Linked DNA regions of Homo sapiens: region 1 is linked to region 2. The links come from fine-mapping of genetic effects on plasma protein levels. Region 2 holds a variant in brackets. A gene starts in the other region. All regions are shown on their reverse strands.

Evidence for each region. A credible set is the group of variants that fine-mapping cannot tell apart. PIP is the posterior inclusion probability: the model's chance that the variant is causal. Protein levels are from antibody-based Olink assays in UK Biobank. Linkage for the fine-mapping came from a reference panel and not from the study's own genotypes, which makes the PIPs less certain.
Region 1: it holds the start of CTSZ, and the variant in region 2 is the best candidate, but not a certain one, in a credible set for the plasma level of the CTSZ protein (UK Biobank, PIP 0.85).

The regions. Positions count from the first base shown.
Region 1 is chr20:59,004,502-59,008,040 of GRCh38, reverse strand. It overlaps CTSZ (cathepsin Z), which reads left to right and starts at 787. Exons shown (of 6, transcript NM_001336.4): 1 at 787-1,055; 2 at 1,556-1,719. The coding sequence starts at 913. RefSeq lists enhancers at 1-43, 724-1,535, 2,684-2,993, 3,234-3,293, 3,304-3,353 and a silencer at 504-1,103.
Region 2 is chr13:41,111,256-41,116,774 of GRCh38, reverse strand. No RefSeq gene overlaps it. Among named protein-coding and RNA genes, the nearest start is that of MIR3168, 13 kb to the right of the region's middle. The variant A/CA (reference allele first, on the strand shown) is at 3,067.

The DNA.
Region 1 (3,539 bases), not on the chromosome of region 2:
GGTCGCAGCCCAGAATGCCGGGCCCTGTTCTTACCAGAGAAGAAGGCCATGGTGTGGGCCCAAGGGCCATGACAAACAGAGGGGCCGCAGGGAGCGAGAAGCCCTCCCCCAGTTACAAAACCACGTCCTGGGGGGCCACTTCTGCTTTTGGTTCCTCATTTGACTAAGAAGAGTTTCGTTAGCAGAAAACCTTTTCAAGGCGTCTTTGGAAGTCACATTGGATAACTCCTGATGCCTGCGCCAAGTGGAATCTTCCTTTGGGGCATTTTCTAGAAGGATCCCTCCTTCCTTCTCTGCAAAAGGGAACCGTCCCCCCGAAAGGGCCTGGGCCTTTGGGAAAAGGGGTTTAGAAAGCCAGGCGCGGGGACCCTTCTTTGGGGGCGGTGGCCGCATCCCAGGATCCCTTCCTAGGGGAGGCCTGGGCCCAGATGTGAGGCTGGGGGCCTCTCCCCAGGGCTCAGGGCCCCAGGAATGCAGGGCCAAGGGGGCCCATGAGCCTGCGGCCCCCCACCCCGAAGCCAGGAACCCCGGCAAATGAGTCCAGCCGGACAGTCCCGCGCTCAGGGCGGCGGCCGGCGGCGGGGTCAGGCTGGGGTCTGCCCGGCGACCTCGCGCCTGGCCCGCGAGTTCAGGTGCCCCGGAGCCAGGGAGGGAGCGGGGCGCGGAGCCGGGCGGGGAGGGCAGGGGTCACCGGGCGGGGCAGGAGCAGCGATGGGACAGCCCCGCCCCGGGGGAGTGTCCCGGCCTGGCCGCCGCAGCCTTAAGGGCCGGGCGGGGCAGGGGCCCAAAGTGCGGGGTCGGCCGGGTGCTGGGCCGAGGCCGAGGCCGGGGCGGGATCCAGAGCGGGAGCCGGCGCGGGATCTGGGACTCGGAGCGGGATCCGGAGCGGGACCCAGGAGCCGGCGCGGGGCCATGGCGAGGCGCGGGCCAGGGTGGCGGCCGCTTCTGCTGCTCGTGCTGCTGGCGGGCGCGGCGCAGGGCGGCCTCTACTTCCGCCGGGGACAGACCTGCTACCGGCCTCTGCGGGGGGACGGGCTGGCTCCGCTGGGGCGCAGGTGGGCACCGGCGGGGAGGCAGCCCTGGGGGGACGGGAGGCCCATCGCCCGGGCCAGGCGCGCGCTCTGCCTCCTGGGGGCCCTGCGTCGCCAACAGGCCTTGGAAGGTCAGATCCAGCCGCTTCGTTTTGGGGGTCGCTCCTTCTCTTCCACATCCAGGGTGAGCCCTGATGTTTGTGGGGTTGGACAAGCCCCACCTGGCCAGAAAGCCAGGCCAGCCCCACCTCCTCGGCCTCTGGGGGTGGCCCTTACGGCGCGGCATGGCTGGGGGAGCAACCCGGTTCCCTCCTTTCGGGGGTGCCCTGCCTCCTTCACATTCTGAGAGCGCTGGAGCCTCCTAGTGTGAGGTGGGCCCACACCTGGCTCACCTCTGGTGATTGTGGCCCCACTCCCATGCCCTCAGGTGTTGGGAAAGGCGGGAGGGCCCTACCGAGGGCTTCCTGGGCCCACGGCCCCCGGGAGCCCCAGCACCGATCTGGGTGGGGATGATCTCTTCTCAGCACATACCCCCGGCCTCATGAGTACCTGTCCCCAGCGGATCTGCCCAAGAGCTGGGACTGGCGCAATGTGGATGGTGTCAACTATGCCAGCATCACCCGGAACCAGCACATCCCCCAATACTGCGGCTCCTGCTGGGCCCACGCCAGCACCAGCGCTATGGCGGGTGAGTGGCCGCCCTTTGACTGTGGGCCAGGAAAGCCCATCCCGGCTGCCTGTTTATAGGCCCAGGCAGCTCAGCCCGCGGTTCCAGGGGCCTGTGATTCAAGGCCAGGTCAGCCTGGGCTGGGGTGCTAAGGCCGAGGAGCGCGGGCCTTTGCCCTCTGCTGAGGTGACCCAAGCTGGGTCATTCTGGGGCTTTTGGGTGACAGGCAGGACTAGGACTGAATCCCAGTGACAAGTGGCTGCCAGGTGCCCTCTCTCCCCCAAAGCTTGTGACCTCAGCCATTGGGATAGAAACAGAAATGCAAAATCACTGAGTCCCCAGGCTGTATTTGAGGATACAGAAGTAAACTGCTTCTCAGCACAGATGAAAGCCTGTCCTGGGCTTGGAATATTGGGTGAGGCTAGTTGGCTACAGCCCATGGCCTAACCTGGTCACTACCTCCAGCCTGGTGGGTTTCTATCTTAGGCTTTTGGCAGGAGTAGGGTAGGGAGGCTCTTAGCAAAGAGGAAGGGGAAACTAAGGCCCTCCCTATCAACGAGGCTGCTGCACCCTGCTTTGGGAGAGAAGGCGGGAGAAGGGACAGCTGCAAACCAGCCCCAGGCCCACCCCACAGCATTTGGAAGGGACTCTGCTATCCCCTCTCCAGTCACAGCACAGGGTCCAGGAGCCTGGATTTCCCCTGGAGATGGGACTTGCGTGGCCTGGGAGTTTGGCCCATGAGCACTGTGGTGCTGTTGCCTCTTCCCTGGCCTTGGTCCTCATGGGTCAGGCCTGCTGTACACCCATGTGAAAAGGATAGACTACAGTGTGGCTGCCGCTGTGGGCCAAGGCTGGGGGACATGCGTTTGCGTGTGCTCCATCTCACTGACGCCTCCTCAATGCCATGATTGCTTCCAGTTTGCAGATGAGGAAGCAGGCTTTTTGCAGAGAGATGGGGAGGCTTGAGCATAGTGTGAGTGACAGCTGAGATTTGAGCCCGGAAGCCTGGGCTTTGTGCCAGGATGTCTGATGGGCTCAGTCTTGTGAATGAGGGGTTCTTGCTCTGGGGGTAGGGTCTGGACCCCAGAGCCAGCCAGCTGAAGCTGTGGCATCCGTGGCGTCTCCCCCGGGGGCTGGAACACACTTCTGATCGTTCAAAGGTCCCTTTGATGTGGATGGAGCTGGAAGGTCTGGGAGACCTTGGGCGGGCTGCAGGGTGTGGGTGGGGCTAGAGGCAGAGGACTGGGCAGAGTCTAGGGGAAGTGTCCAGGCCTGGCACCCGCTGAGGAAGTGAAAGAGCCTTTGAGGGTGGGGTGAGGGTGAGGGGAGAATAGAAAGGTCAACAGGTGCCTGTGGGAAGCCTTGAACTCTTTGAGAGGGAGTCAGGTGACAAGATGTGCGTCTGTGAAGGACTGCGGGTAGAAAGGAGATGGCTTTCAGATGGATGTGGGACCCTGGCCAGGGGTCAGCCCTGCCGCATTTCCCCAGGGGACTCTCTCTGGGCGGATGACTGCTTCACCCCACTTTCTCCTGAAACCTCCTTCTCAGCGCACCCAGGCCCAGGCACTCGCTTCCTCTTTCACTGAGGAATAGAAGCCACCAGAAGGGGACTTCCACGGGGCCCTGGCCATTTGCCAGCCAAGGCAGCAGGTCCTCCATTTGTCTTCCCTCCTCTCCCCCAGGATCAACTGTCTTGTCCCCTCACTGAGCCCGTCCCTTCCCACTCAGGGAAGCTCTCCCACCTGGAAAAAAGGAACACAAAGCCCCCGGCCCCACCCCGCCCCAATTCTGGGCTCCCTAGGGAAGTATCTGGAGTCCCTCCACTTCCTCTTCTCTACCCT
Region 2 (5,519 bases):
GAGCCCTGCATCTGTCTGGTGCTAGGAATCAACTCTCCTGGCTTTCCTCCTTCTTCTCTGATTCTGCTCCATCTCCAACATCTATTCTGCCTTCTAGTCAATCTTCTCTTCCCTTGAACGTTTCTGACCCTCTAGCTCCTGCTTTGGCCATCTTCTTTCTCTATATTTCTCCTTCTCTCTGTGCCACTGCATTCAAGCGTGGTTAATGTTGATGTCTCCCAAATCCGTATCTCTAGTTCATCTTTTCTTCTGAGCTCCAGAACCATATATTCAGTTATCTTGTTCCACAGCTCTGCCTGTAATAAGCATATTCCAAACAGATCTCTTTTTCTTCACCTAGTCTCACTTCCCAGAAGCTGCTTCTCTTTCCATGCTTCCTGTTTTGATGGAAGTCCACTCAGATACATGGCAGGAGCCCAGACATCATCTTTCCCTCCATCTGCCTCACCATCCACATCCATTCAATCACTAAACTCTACTTACTTGGCTCCCAAAATACAGCTACATGCTCCCCACTTTTCCCTATCCCCGCTGTCTTCACACTAGCCCACATATATGCTGGCTTGGGCTTCTATAATAACCTTCTATCTGGTTTCTTCTTTAATTCAGGGTTTATTACATGGAGTGTGAAGACCCCCCCCCCCCACACCAAAGTATGTAGGTAGAATTCAGAGGGCTCATGAACTTTGTTGAGAAAAAATATATATTTATTTTCACTAATCTATAACTAAAACTTAGTATTTCCTTTTTATGAATGTAAGCAATAAGCCACAATAATATTAGCACTACCTGTAACTTTACTAACAATAGAAATTATAAATATTTCAAGTCTGGGCACAGTGGCTCACACCTGTAATCCCAGCACTGTGGGAGGCCGAGGCAGGCGGATCACTTGAGGTCAGGAGTTCAAGACAAGCCTGGCCAACATGGTGAAACCACATCTCCACTAAAAATACAAAAATTAGCTGGGTGTGGTGGCAGGTGCCTGTAGCACCCCACCCTACTTGGGGAGCTGAGGCAGGATAATTGTTTGAATCTGGGAGGTGGAGGCAGAGGCTGTAGTGAGCCAAGATCAAGCCACTGCACTCCAGCCTGGGTGAGAGTACGACTCCATCTCAAAAAAAAGAAAGAAATTGTAAATATTTTATATCATGTTGCAGTTGTTGCAAATATCTCAAATTATCATTTATATTCATTGGTTCTCTGAAATATGGTAGTTATTGATAAGACCTACTGCTAGATCTAGATCTTCTTATGTATAAAGAAGCACATATAATATTATCTTTTTTTTTTTTTTTGGGACAGAGTTTCGCTCTTGTTGCCCAGGCTGGAGTGCAATGACGCGATCTTGGCTCATTGCAACCTCCACCTCCCAGGTTCAAGCGATTCTCCTGGCTCAGCCTCCCTAGTAGCTGGGATTACAAGCGCCCACCACAACGTCCAGCTAATATTTTGTATTTTTAGTACAGATGGGGTTTCACCACGTTGGCCAGGCTGGTCTCGAACTCCTGACCTCAGGTGATCCACCCGCCTCAGCCTCCCAAAGTGCTGGGATTACAGGCATGTAATCCCATGAGCCACCACGCCTGGCTCAATACTATCTTATGCTTTTAAAATATTTTAGGCTTGGCGCAGTGGCTCATGTCTATAATCCCAGCACTTTGGGAGGCTGAGGTGGGCAGATCAACTGAGGTCAGGAGTTCGAGACCAGCTTGGCCAACATGGTGAAACCCCATCTCTACTAAAAAAAAAATATTAAAAAAATTAGCCAGGCCTGGTGGCTGGCACCTATAATCCCAGCTACTCGGGAGGCTGAGGCAGGAGAATTGCTTGGAGGCAGAGGTTGCAGTGAGCCCAGATCGCGCCATTGCACTCCAGCCAGGGCAACAGAGTGAGACTCCATCTCAAAAAAAAAACTTCTTTTTTGAAAACTGTATTTTAAAATAATTGGATTTGTTTGTAATCCTATGTATTTTTAATAGCTTTATTGAGATACAATTGACATATCATGGCTGGACGCGGTGGCTCATGCCTGTAATCCCAGCACTTTGGGAGGCCGAGGCGGGCAGATCACGAGGTCAGGAGATCAAGACCATCCTGGCTAACACAGTGAAACCTCGTCTCTACTAAAAATACAAAAAAATTAGCTGTGCGTGGTGGCGTGCCTCTGTAGTCCCAGCTACTTGGGAGGCTGAGGCAGGACAATGGCGTGAACCCGGGAGGCAGAACTTGCAGTGAGCCAAGATCGCACCACTGCACTCCAGCCTGGGCGACAGAGCGAGACTCCGTCTCAAAAAAAAAAAAAAAAAAAAAATTGACTTATCATATAATTCCCTATTTAAAGTATATAGTTTAATGTTTCGTATATTCACAGAGTTGTACAATCATTATGACAATTAAACATTATTTTTCATCACTCCCAAAGAAACCCTGTATGCATTAGCAGTCACCTCCCATTTCTTCTCAGCTTCACCCCCTCCCTCAGACTGAGGCAACCACTAATCTACTCTGTCTCTATAGATATTTTATATAAACTGAATTATAGAATATGATACAATATATGATCTTTCGTATCTGGCTTCTTTTACTTAGCATAATATTTTCAAGGTTCATCTATGCTTTGGCATGTATCAATATTTCATTCCTTTGTATGGTCTAATATTCCATTGCATGGATATACCATATTTAACTTACACATCTTCGTTTGGTGGAAATGAAGGAAACCCTAACCCCAGTACAAATGTGACTGTATTAGGAGATACTTTTAAGGAGGTAATTAAGTTAAAATGAAGCCAGTAGGGTGTCTTTATAAGAAGAGGAGGCCCGGTCATGGTGGCTCACGCCTGTAATCCCAGCACTTTGGGAGGAGTTCAAGACCAACTGGCCAACATGGTGAAACCCCATCTCTACTAAAAACACAAAAATTAGCTGGGTGTGTTGGTGGGCGCCTGTAATCCCAGCTACTCAGGAAGCTGAGGCAGAATTGCTTGAACTGGCGGAGCAGCGGTTGCAGTGAGCAGTGCGCCGCTTCACTCCAGCCTGGGCGAAAGAGGGAGACCCCGTTTC[A/CA]AAAAAAAAAAAAGAAAAAAAGTAGAGGAGATTAGGACACACAAGAAACACCAGGAATGCACTGGCACAGAGGAAAGGCCATGTGAGGACACAGAGAGAAGGTGGCCATCTGCAAGCCAAGGAGAAAGGCCTCAGAGGAAAACACACCTGCTGGTACCTTGGTCTTGGTATTCCAGCTTCCAGAACTGTGAGGAAATAACTTTCTGTTATTTAGGCCATCCAGTCTGTGACGTTTTGTTATGGCAGGTCCAGCTGACTAATACACCGTGCATTTTTACTTTCTTTATTGTGTTCTTTGAAGCACAAACGTTTTTTATTTTGATGAAGTCCAATATATTTTGCTTTCATTGTTTGTGCTTTTGGTGTCATGCCTCTCCTTTTTAAATTTTAATTTTTTTTCTTTTTTATGAGACAATGTCTTGCTCTGCCACCCAGGCTAGAGTGCAGTGGCACAATCATAGATCACTGTAACTCCAGACTCCTGGGCTACTGTGATCCTCCTGCCTCAGCCTCCCAAGTAGCTAGGTCTACAGTCATGCACCACCACACAAGGCTAATTAAAAAAAAAATTTGTAGACACAAGCTCACCATGTAGCTAAAGCTAGTCTCAAACTCCTGGCATCAAGCAATCATCCTGCTTTGGCCTCCCAATGCACTGGGATTACAGGCAGGAGATACAACACACAGCCCATTGTCATGTCTTTCCCTAACATAGGTCATGGACATTTTCTCCTACAACTTCTCTGTGTGTTCTAGTTTTACCTCTTACATTTAGGTCTATGATTCATTTTGAGTTAATTTCTGTGTATGGTGTTATGAAGGAGTCAAACTTCATTTCTTTTGCATGTGGATATCTACTTGTTCCAGGACCATTTGTTGAAAAGACTATTCTTTCCCCCGTTGAATGGTCTTGGCACCCTTGTTAAAATTCAATTGACCATAAAAAGAAAAGTTTATTTCTGGAGTCTCAGTTCTATTCCATTAATTTATGTGTCTACTCTTATCCCAAGCACCACAATGTCTTGATTACTGTAACTTTGTAAAAGTTTGAAATCAGGAACTTCTCTAAATTTGTGCTTCTATTTCAGGATTATTGTGACTTATTCTTCATCCCTTGCATTTCTACATGAATTTTAGGATCAAGTAGGATTTTGATCATGATTGTTTTGAATGTAGATCGATTTGGGGAATATTTCCATTTTAACAACATTGTCTTCCAATCCATGAACATGGTCTATTCTTCATTAATTTAGGTATTCCTTAATTTCTTTCAACAATAATTTGTAATTTTCAGGGTACTAATTTTATTTTATTTATTTATTTGAGACAAGGTCTCACTCTGTCACCTAGGCTGGAGTGCAGTGGCACGATCTTGGCTCACTGCAGCATTAACCTCCTGGGCTTAGGCAATCCTCCTGCCTCAGCCTCCTGAGTAGCTGGGACTACAGGTGCACACCACTATACCTGACTAATTTTTTTGTTTGTTTTTTTGGTAGAGACAAGGTCCCGCTATGTTGCCCAGGCTGGCCTCAAGCACCTGGGCTCAATCGGTCCTCCCAGTTGGCCTCCCAAATTGCTGGGATTACAGGCATGAACAACCATGTCCAGCCAAGAGTATGAATTTTATACTTCTTTTATTCCCAAGTATTTTCTTCTTTTTGAGGCTATTGTGAATGAAATTATTTTGCTAATTTCATTTTTTGTGTGTATTCCTACACATTTTATTTTAGGCATTTAAATAATTATTCAAGATGGGATCTGTAGGCTTTACCAGACCACCAACTATGTCCAAAGAACAAAAATAAAAATATTTTAGACCCTGCTTTATGTTGCAGCCAGAGTGATCTTGATAAAATACAAATCTGATCATGTCTCTTCACTGATTAAAATCTTTAATTGGCTGGCCATAGCAATCAGGTACAAGTCCAATTTACTTAAAATAGCTTATAAATTTCTTTATACATTTTCACTGCTTGCCTTTCTGGCTCATCTTTATACCTCTGACTCATCCTCACAATTTTTTTTTTTTTAACAGGATCCCAGCTCTGTTGCCGAGGCTGGAGTGCAGTGGCGCAATCTCGGCTCGCTGCGACCTCCCCATTTCAGGCTCAAGCAATCCTCCCGGCTCAGCTCCCTGAGTATCTGGGACTACAGGTGTGTGCCTCCATGCCCAGCTAATTCTTTTTTTTTTTGAGACAGAGTCTTGTTCTGTCACCCAGGCTGGAGTGAAGTGGCATGGTCTCGGCTCACTGCAACCTCTGTCTCCCGGTTTCAAGTGATTCTCCTGCCTCAGCCTCCTGAGTAGCTGGGATTACAGGCACGTGCTACTGCGCCCAGCTAATTTTTGTATTTTTAGTAGAGATGGGGTTTCACCATGTTGGCCAAGCTGGTCTCGAACTTCTGACCTCAGGCAATCCACCCACCTTGGCCTTCCAAAGTGCTGGGATTACAGG